Linked DNA regions of Homo sapiens. The protein of the gene in region 2 purifies or fractionates together with the protein of the main gene of each other region. This does not show direct contact. Each region holds a gene or a part of one and is shown on either strand. Other genes may lie near its edges. The genes, in order: ZNF331 and ACOT2.

Region 1 (3,814 bases), on a different chromosome or scaffold from region 2:
AGTAGTATTATTAAAAGTAACTGGTAAAGGGCCGGGAGTGGTGGCTCATCACGCCTGTAATCCCAGCACTTTGGGAGGCCAAGGCAGGCAGATCACCTGAGGTCGGGAGTCCGAGACCAGCTTGACCAACATGGAGAAACCTTGTCTCTACTAAAAATACAAAATTAGCCGGACATGGTGGCGCATGACTGTAATCCCAGCTACTCGGGAGGCTGAGGCAGGGAAATTGCTTGAACCTGGGAAGCAGAGGTTGCAGTGAGCCGAGATCATGCCATTGCACTGTAGCCTGGGCAACAAGCATGAAACTCTGTCTCAAAACAAAAACAAAAAAACAGACTGGGCACGGTGGCTCACGCTTGTAATCCCAGCACTTTGGGAGGCCGAGGTGGGCAGATCATGAAGTCAGGAGTTCGAGACCAGCCTGGCCAACACGGTGAAATCCTGTCTCTACTAAAAATACAAACATTAGCTGGGCATGGTGGTGGGTGCCTGTAATCCCAGCTACTCCGGAGGCTGAGGCAGGAGAATCGCTTGAACCCGGGAGGCAGAAGTTGCGGTGAGCCGAGATTGTGCCACTGCACTCCAGCCTGGGTGACAGAGCTAGACTCCATATCAAAAAAACAAAAAACAAAAAACAAAAACAAACAAACCCTGTCTGTACTAAAAACGCAAAAATTAGCCAGGCATGGTGGTGTGAGCCTATAATCCCAGCTACTTGGGAGGCTGAGGCAGGAGAATCGCTTGAACCCGGGAGGTGGAGGTTGCAGTGAGCCGACTGAATAAGACTCCGTCTCAAAAAAAAAAAAAAAAAAAAAAGCAACTGGGTAAAAGAATACAACATTCAAAAGCAACAAAAAAGATAATTTACGAGACTAAATTTAATAAAAAATGTGAAAAAGTTTAGAAGAACAATAAGGAAAAGTTTAGAACTTGAGCATCAATAAGGAGGCTAACTGCAAAGGACTGAGAAACAGCAAACGTTTAAATCTATAAGTTCATAATGATACTACAAAATGTTAAATGGCCAGCTCTGGAACACGCTAGGAAACCAGACCTTTATTATAAAAACTGGCAATTGGCTAGGTGCAGTGGCTCACGCCTGTAATCCCAGCACTTTGGGAGACCGAGGTGGGTGGATTACTTGAGCTCAGGAGTTCAAAACCAGCCTGGGAAACATAGCAAAACCCTGTCTCTACAAAAAAAATACAAAAATTAGCCAGGTGTGGTGGTGTACACCTATAGTCCCAGCTACTTGGGAGGCTGAGGTGGGAGGATGGCTTGAGCCCGGAAGTCAAGGCTGCAGTGAGCCCAGACTGCACTACTGCACTCCAGCCTGGGAATCAGAGTAAGACCCTGCCTCAAAAAAAAAAAAAAAAAAGAAAAGAAAAAAATACAACATAAAAACTGACAAAGAAAAAGAACAAAGTTTTTATCCTTCTTATCCAATATGAACAGTGCCACTGCATGAGCAATTAGCAGATGAAACAAAGTTTCTCTTTAAATTATAACAGCTGATAAATGAAGGGGCAGTGATAGGCGCGCACCATTTGAGCCCCCAGTGTGATGAATGTAAGCAGTGCCAATGACTGCCAATGGCAAAGAGGAGCTACAACCAGACACCAGGTGCTTCATGGTGGTGACACATTAACAACACCCGGGAAGCAGTACTGCCAACACCTAGATATGAGAAAAAGAAAACGGGCACTTAAAGCGAGGCTAACCCACTTTCAGGAATGATAAAGGGCAGAGGACCCTGTCACCTCTACCCGCTACTAAAGGCGTGGCCCACAGACCAGCAGCACCAGCAGCACATAAAATGGGGTTAAATATGACAGGAAAAACAAGGTGACAGGGAAATGGGGTGAAGATCAAGTTCGTGGTAAGATCTTTCTTTCCTAGAGGCTTTGGGCCTGAGCTCTTGGAGAAAGCTCTCCAACACCTCAGGGTGTGCCTGTTCCCTGCCCTGTGGGGATGCTCTTTGTACGGGTGGCTGACTGGCTCCCACTTTCCTCCGTATTGTTGTCTTGTCTCTTCCCTCACAACCATCAAGGCTCTTTCCCTTAATTCTATAAGACAGTACCTCTGGCTTAGAAATTATATGCCCTCCTTTAAAAAAACGAAATGCTAGAGGACATAGAACTTGAGGAAAAATTTCAAGCTCAAAACTTCAAAAATTCTTTAAAAATTATTTTTATTTTTTGAGAGGGAGTCTTGCTCTGTTGCCCAGGCTGGAGTGCAGTGGCATGATCTTGACTCACTGCAGCCTCTGCCTCCCAGGTCCCAGCAATTCTCCTGCCTCACTCAGTCTCCTGGGTAGCTGGGATTACAGGCGCACACCAGCACACCGGCTAATTTTTGTGTTTTTAGTAGAGACGGGTTTTCACCATGTTGGCCAGGCTGGTCTTGAAGTCCTGACTTCAGGTGATCTGCCCGCCTTGGACTCCCAAAGTGCTGGGATTATAGGCGTGAACCACCATGCCTGGCCTTAAATTTTTTTTGATTGAGTATTAATCAAATTTATAACAACCAGAAGTCAAAATGCTATTGAGCCAGGTGCAGTGGCTCACGCCTGTAATCCAGCCTCTTTGGAAGGCTGAGGTGGGTGGATTCCTTTAGCCCAGGAGTTCAAGATCAGCTTGGACAACATGGCGAAATCCCATCTCTAAGAAAAAACACAACAATTAGCCGGGTGTCGTGGTGTGCACCTGTGGTCCCTGCTACTCAGGGAGATGAGGCAGGAAGATTGCTTGAGCCCAGGAGGTTGAGGCTGCTGTGAGCTGTGATCGCGCCACTGCACTCCAGCCTGAGTAACAGAGTGAAAAAAAGAAAAAAATCTCAACTTAAAAAAAAAAAGAAATGCTATACCTCTACCTCCCGGGTTCAAGTGATTCTCCTGCCTCAGCCTCCCAAGTAGCTGGAATTACAGGCATGCGCCACCACACCCGGCAAATTTTTGTATTTTCAGGAGAGATGGGGTTTCACTCTGTTGGCCAAGCTGGTCTCGAACTCCTATCTTCGTGATCCGTCTGCCTTGGCCTGCCAGTCTTGTGATCACAGGAGTGAGCCACCGCACCCGGCCTTATTTTTTATTATTTTTGAGACAGAGTCTCGCTTTGTTGCCCAGGCTGCAGCACAGTAGCGTGATCTTGGCTCACTGCAACCTCTGCTTCCCAGGTTCAAATGATTCTCCTGCACCAGCCTCCGGAGTAGCTGAGATCACAGGCGTGCGCCACCATGCCCGGCTAATTTTTATATTTTTAGTAGAGACAGGGTTTCACCATGTTGGCCAGGCTGGTCTCTAACTCCTGACCTCCAGTGATCCGCCCACCTCAGCCTCCCAAAGTGCTGGGATTACAGGCGTGAGCCACTGCGCCTGGCCGAGAAAAGGTCATATTTTAAATTTCTGTAGGCATTATGCCTGGAGGCAAGTGGAACATGGTGGCTGGCAGCAAGGAATCTGGGGACCAAAACTGTTAAATCTGATTCTAGCTCCTGCTCCCTCCGTCTGACTGCATCACTGTGTTTCAGTATCCTCATCTCCAAAATAGACAATGATTGTGCCTGTCTCATCTGCCTGTGAGAACGAAATGCAATGTACTTACACACACAGTGCTTAGCACAGTGCATGGCACACAGTAAGCAGTTTATATATATAATATATACTATATATGTATATATTGTATATGTATATATGTGTATATATAATATATATGTGTATATATAATATATATGTGTATATATAATATATATGTGTGTGTATATATAATATATATGTGTGTGTATATATATAAAATATATATATTCCTATTTGTTT
Region 2 (4,257 bases):
GAGTACATTTCACACCCTCAGAAGTGGCCCACTTTTAGAAGCTAGCATTATCAATTGCTGACCAGTATGTGGAGGAAATGAAACTCACTGCTAGAAGGAGCAACATATTCATCTGCTCTGGGCAACAATTTGTCTTAACTTACAAAGTTAAATATGTTATTCTACTTGTACATGTGCACCAGGAGGCATATTCCTTATAAGAGGCCAGATGAGCAGTCTGGATTAATTTAAAAAAAGAGCAAAGTCAACTGGAAACAGTCCAAATGTCCATCAACAATAGAACAGATTAATAAATTGAGGTATATTTCCAGCAGTCAAAGTGATTGAACTACAGCTACAAGAATCAACATCTATCAAGATATACAAAAGAAAAGAAAAAAAAAGAATCAACATGGATGAATCTCCAAACCACTGTTGAGTGAAACAGTCAAACCCTAGGAGAACACATTCAGTATCATTCCATTTAGATACAATTCAAAAACTAGGCAAAATAAAATATTAAGGTACATAATCTAAGTGGTAATACTATGAAGAAAACCAAGAGTGATACACAGAAAGTCCAGGATACTGGAAAGAGAGGAAAGGGCACAGGGGTCTGTGGGACGTTGATGGTTTGCGGGTATCAGCACTGAACTATGTCTTAAAAGTGTTGCCTGTAAGGTGTTTGCATTTTTTTTTTTTTTTTTTTTTTTTTTGAGACAGTGTCTCGCTCTTTCGCCCAGGCTGGAGTAGTGGCACAATCTTGGCTCACTGCAACCTCCACCTCCCGGGTTCAAGCGATTCTCCTCCCTCAGCCTCCCGAGTAGCTGGGATTACAGGTGGCCGCCACCACACCCAGCTAATTTTTGTATTTTTAGTACAGATGGGGTTTCACCATGTTGGCCAGGCTGGTCTCGAACTCCTGACCTCAGGTGATCCACCCGTCTCAGCCTCCCAAAGTGCTGGGGTTACAGGCGTGAGCCACCGGACCCAGCCTGCATTATTACTATTTAATTTTGTGTGAAACACAAAACCTTTAATGTAAATGATAAAAATATCAGTAAGTGGAGTCATTCAGAATGAGTAGCCTTTTGAGTCTGTCTCCGTTGAGTAAGTGCATTCTGTTGAGTGCACTGGAGAGGAATTTGTGCTCTTCTATGTAGCAGTCTTTCTTTTTGTTTCTTGGTGGTGCACCATTAAATGGATTCATTCACCAGTTAAAGGACATTTGGGTTGTTTCCAGTCTTTGGCTACAACGAGTAAAGTCACTATAAACACTTGCCAGAGGTTTCTGGACGAACAGGTTTTCATTTCTCGTGGGTAGATACCTAGGAGTGGGATTGCTGGGTCACATGTGTGGTAAGTATATGTTTAACTTAAACCATCCAACTGTTTCAGGAATAGCTTAGTTTTGCATTTTGTTTTGTTTCTTCCCAAGAACCTGGGCCCTTTCCTGGGATTGTGGACATGTTCGGAACTGGAGGTGGCCTGCTGGAGTATCGGGCTAGTCTGCTGGCTGGGAAGGGTTTTGCTGTGATGGCTCTGGCTTATTATAACTATGAAGACCTCCCCAAGACCATGGAGACGCTCCATCTGGAGTACTTTGAAGAAGCCATGAACTACTTGCTCAGTCATCCCGAGGTTAGTTCTTCTTTCAGATTTATGGGCTATGATGTATCAGGTCTCTTCTTAAATGGTCTGGGTTTTCACAGAAGTTAGCTCATTCATGACAGCCATTCCCTACCCCAACACACACTACCTTTTTTAGTCACTTCTTATAGACAGTTTCTTTTTTTGAGATGGAGTCTCACTCTGTTGCCAGGCTGGAGTCCAGTGGTGCGATCTTGGCTCACTGCAACCTCCACCTCCCAAGTTCAAGTGATTCTTGTGCCCCACCCTCCCGAGTAGTTGGGATTACAGGCACCTGCCACCATGCTTGGCTAATTTTTGTATTTTTAGTGGAGGCGGGGTTTCACAATATTGGTCAGGCTGGTCTTGAACTCCTGACCTCAAATGATCCACCTGCTTTGACCTACCCAAGTGCTGGATTACAGGCATGAGCCACTATGCCCAGCCTAATATTTGTATTTTTTTTTTTTTAAGTAGAGATGGGGTTTCGCCATGTTGGCCAGGCTGGTCTCAAACTCCTGACCTCAAGTGATCTGCCCACCTTGGCCTCCCAGAGTGCTGGAATTACAGGCATGAGCCACCACACCTGGCCTCTTATAGACAGTTTCTATTCAATTCTATATTACTATATTTCCTGCTAGTAAAGAGATTCGTAGTTGTTATTATGCAATTTTAAATTCCAGTATTTTTTTTTTTTTTTTTTTGAGATGGAGTCTTGCTGTGTCACCCAGGCTGGAGTGCAATGGCATGATCTCGGCTCACTGCAAACTCCACCTCCCAGGTTCAATTGATTCTTCTGCCTCAGCCTCCCACGTAGCTGTGACTACAGGCACGTGCCACTACTGCCCGGCTAATTCTTGTATTTTTAGTAGAGATGTTTCACCATGTTGGCCAGACTGATCTCAAACTCCTGACCTCAAATGATCCACCCGCCTCAGCCTCCCAAACTGTTGGGATTACAGGCGTCAGCCACCACTCCCGGCCATGAGATGATGTACTTGTTGATGATGACTCAGTTTAGTTATGACAGTGGGAATGGGTGGCTCAGGTGGGAGACAGAAAAAGATCATGGGAGATACGAGATTAAGGAACTGAGAAACCAGAGAATAATTGATAGATCTTCCACATGGTTATCACCAAGAGTGGTGATGGACAAATTGTGGAAAGGAAGAGATAGAGGGGAGGTAAATTCTCAAAGTTGCAAATCTGGGTAAATGGTAGAACCTAGATTCAGACTCAGGTTCAACTAACTTCCAGGGTGGACACAACTCACCATATTCCACTGTTTGTGGAATCATTCTTCTTCTTTTTCCTTTGTCCCTTTCTCAGGTAAAAGGTCCAGGAGTTGGGCTGCTTGGAATTTCCAAAGGGGGTGAGCTCTGCCTTTCCATGGCCTCTTTCCTGAAGGGCATCACGGCTGCTGTCGTCATCAACGGCTCTGTGGCCAATGTTGGGGGAACCTTACACTACAAGGGCGAGACCCTGCCCCCTGTGGGCGTCAACAGAAATCGCATCAAGGTGACCAAAGATGGCTATGCAGACATTGTGGATGTCCTGAACAGCCCTTTGGAAGGACCTGACCAGAAGAGCTTCATTCCTGTGGAAAGGGCAGAGAGCACCTTCCTGTTCCTGGTAGGTCAGGATGACCACAACTGGAAGAGTGAGTTCTATGCTAATGAGGCCTGTAAACGCTTGCAGGCCCATGGGAGGAGAAAGCCCCAGATCATCTGTTACCCAGAGACAGGGCACTATATTGAGCCTCCTTACTTCCCCCTGTGTCGGGCTTCCCTGCATGCCTTGGTGGGCAGTCCTATTATCTGGGGAGGGGAGCCCAGGGCTCATGCCATGGCTCAGGTGGATGCTTGGAAACAACTCCAGACTTTCTTCCACAAACACTTGGGTGGCCACGAGGGGACAATCCCATCAAAAGTGTAAATTTTATTTGATCATGTGGCCTCTCTGTTGCTAATCTCTCCTGGAAACATCTGCCACATTTAGTGTGTGTATGTGTATTCATTCTTTTGTTTTTAATAACTAAAGTTTTTTCCCCTCATTATTAAAATGAATTTACCAGTAAGAATGAGTTTTTAAGATTTTTATAAACTGTATACTTTATCAGTTTGGGAAGGGAGTAACTGTAGGAAACACAAGAAGTGGAAAAAGTCTCCTCTTCCTATCTCAACACACAACTGATAAGGCTTTAGTTCTGAAAGGAAAAGTGAGTAACATCAATTAACAGTGTCTGGTACGTAAATGGAGTTCAATAATTATTTGCTGAATGAGTATAAGTGAGCCAGGCGTGGTGGCTCACACCTGTAATGCCAGCACTTTGGGAGGCTGAGGTGGGCGGATCACTTGAGGTCAGGAGTTTGAGACCAGTCTGGCCAACGTGATGAAACCCCATCTCTCCTAAAAATACAAAAAATTAGCCAGGCGTGGTGGCAGGCACCTGTAGTCACAGCTACTTGGGAGGCTGAGGCAGGAGAATTGCTTGAACCTGGGAGGCGGAGGTTGCAGTGAGAAGAGGTTGCAGTGAGAAAAGATTGTGCTACTACCCTCCAGCCTGGGCAACAGCAAGACTCTGCCTCAAAAATTAATTAATTAATTAATTAAATGATTACCTACTGTGGAAGAAAAGCACATAATATA

Evidence for each region.
Region 1: the proteins of ACOT2 (region 2) and ZNF331 purify together in Homo sapiens (co-immunoprecipitation; one large-scale study listed by IntAct). This does not show direct contact.

What each region holds. Positions count from the first base shown.
Region 1 is NC_000019.10:53,572,502-53,576,315, reverse strand, and holds part of ZNF331 (zinc finger protein 331), read right to left. Parts: intron 1-3,814. UniProt on the Homo sapiens protein: May be involved in transcriptional regulation. May play a role in spermatogenesis.
Region 2 is NC_000014.9:73,571,971-73,576,227, forward strand, and holds the end of ACOT2 (acyl-coenzyme A thioesterase 2, mitochondrial), read left to right. Parts: intron 1-1,417; coding exon 1,418-1,620; intron 1,621-2,315; coding exon of another isoform or gene 2,316-2,399; exon of another isoform or gene 2,400-2,437; intron 2,438-2,937; coding exon 2,938-3,543; 3' UTR 3,544-3,685; downstream 3,686-4,257. UniProt on the Homo sapiens protein: Catalyzes the hydrolysis of acyl-CoAs into free fatty acids and coenzyme A (CoASH), regulating their respective intracellular levels. Displays higher activity toward long chain acyl CoAs (C14-C20).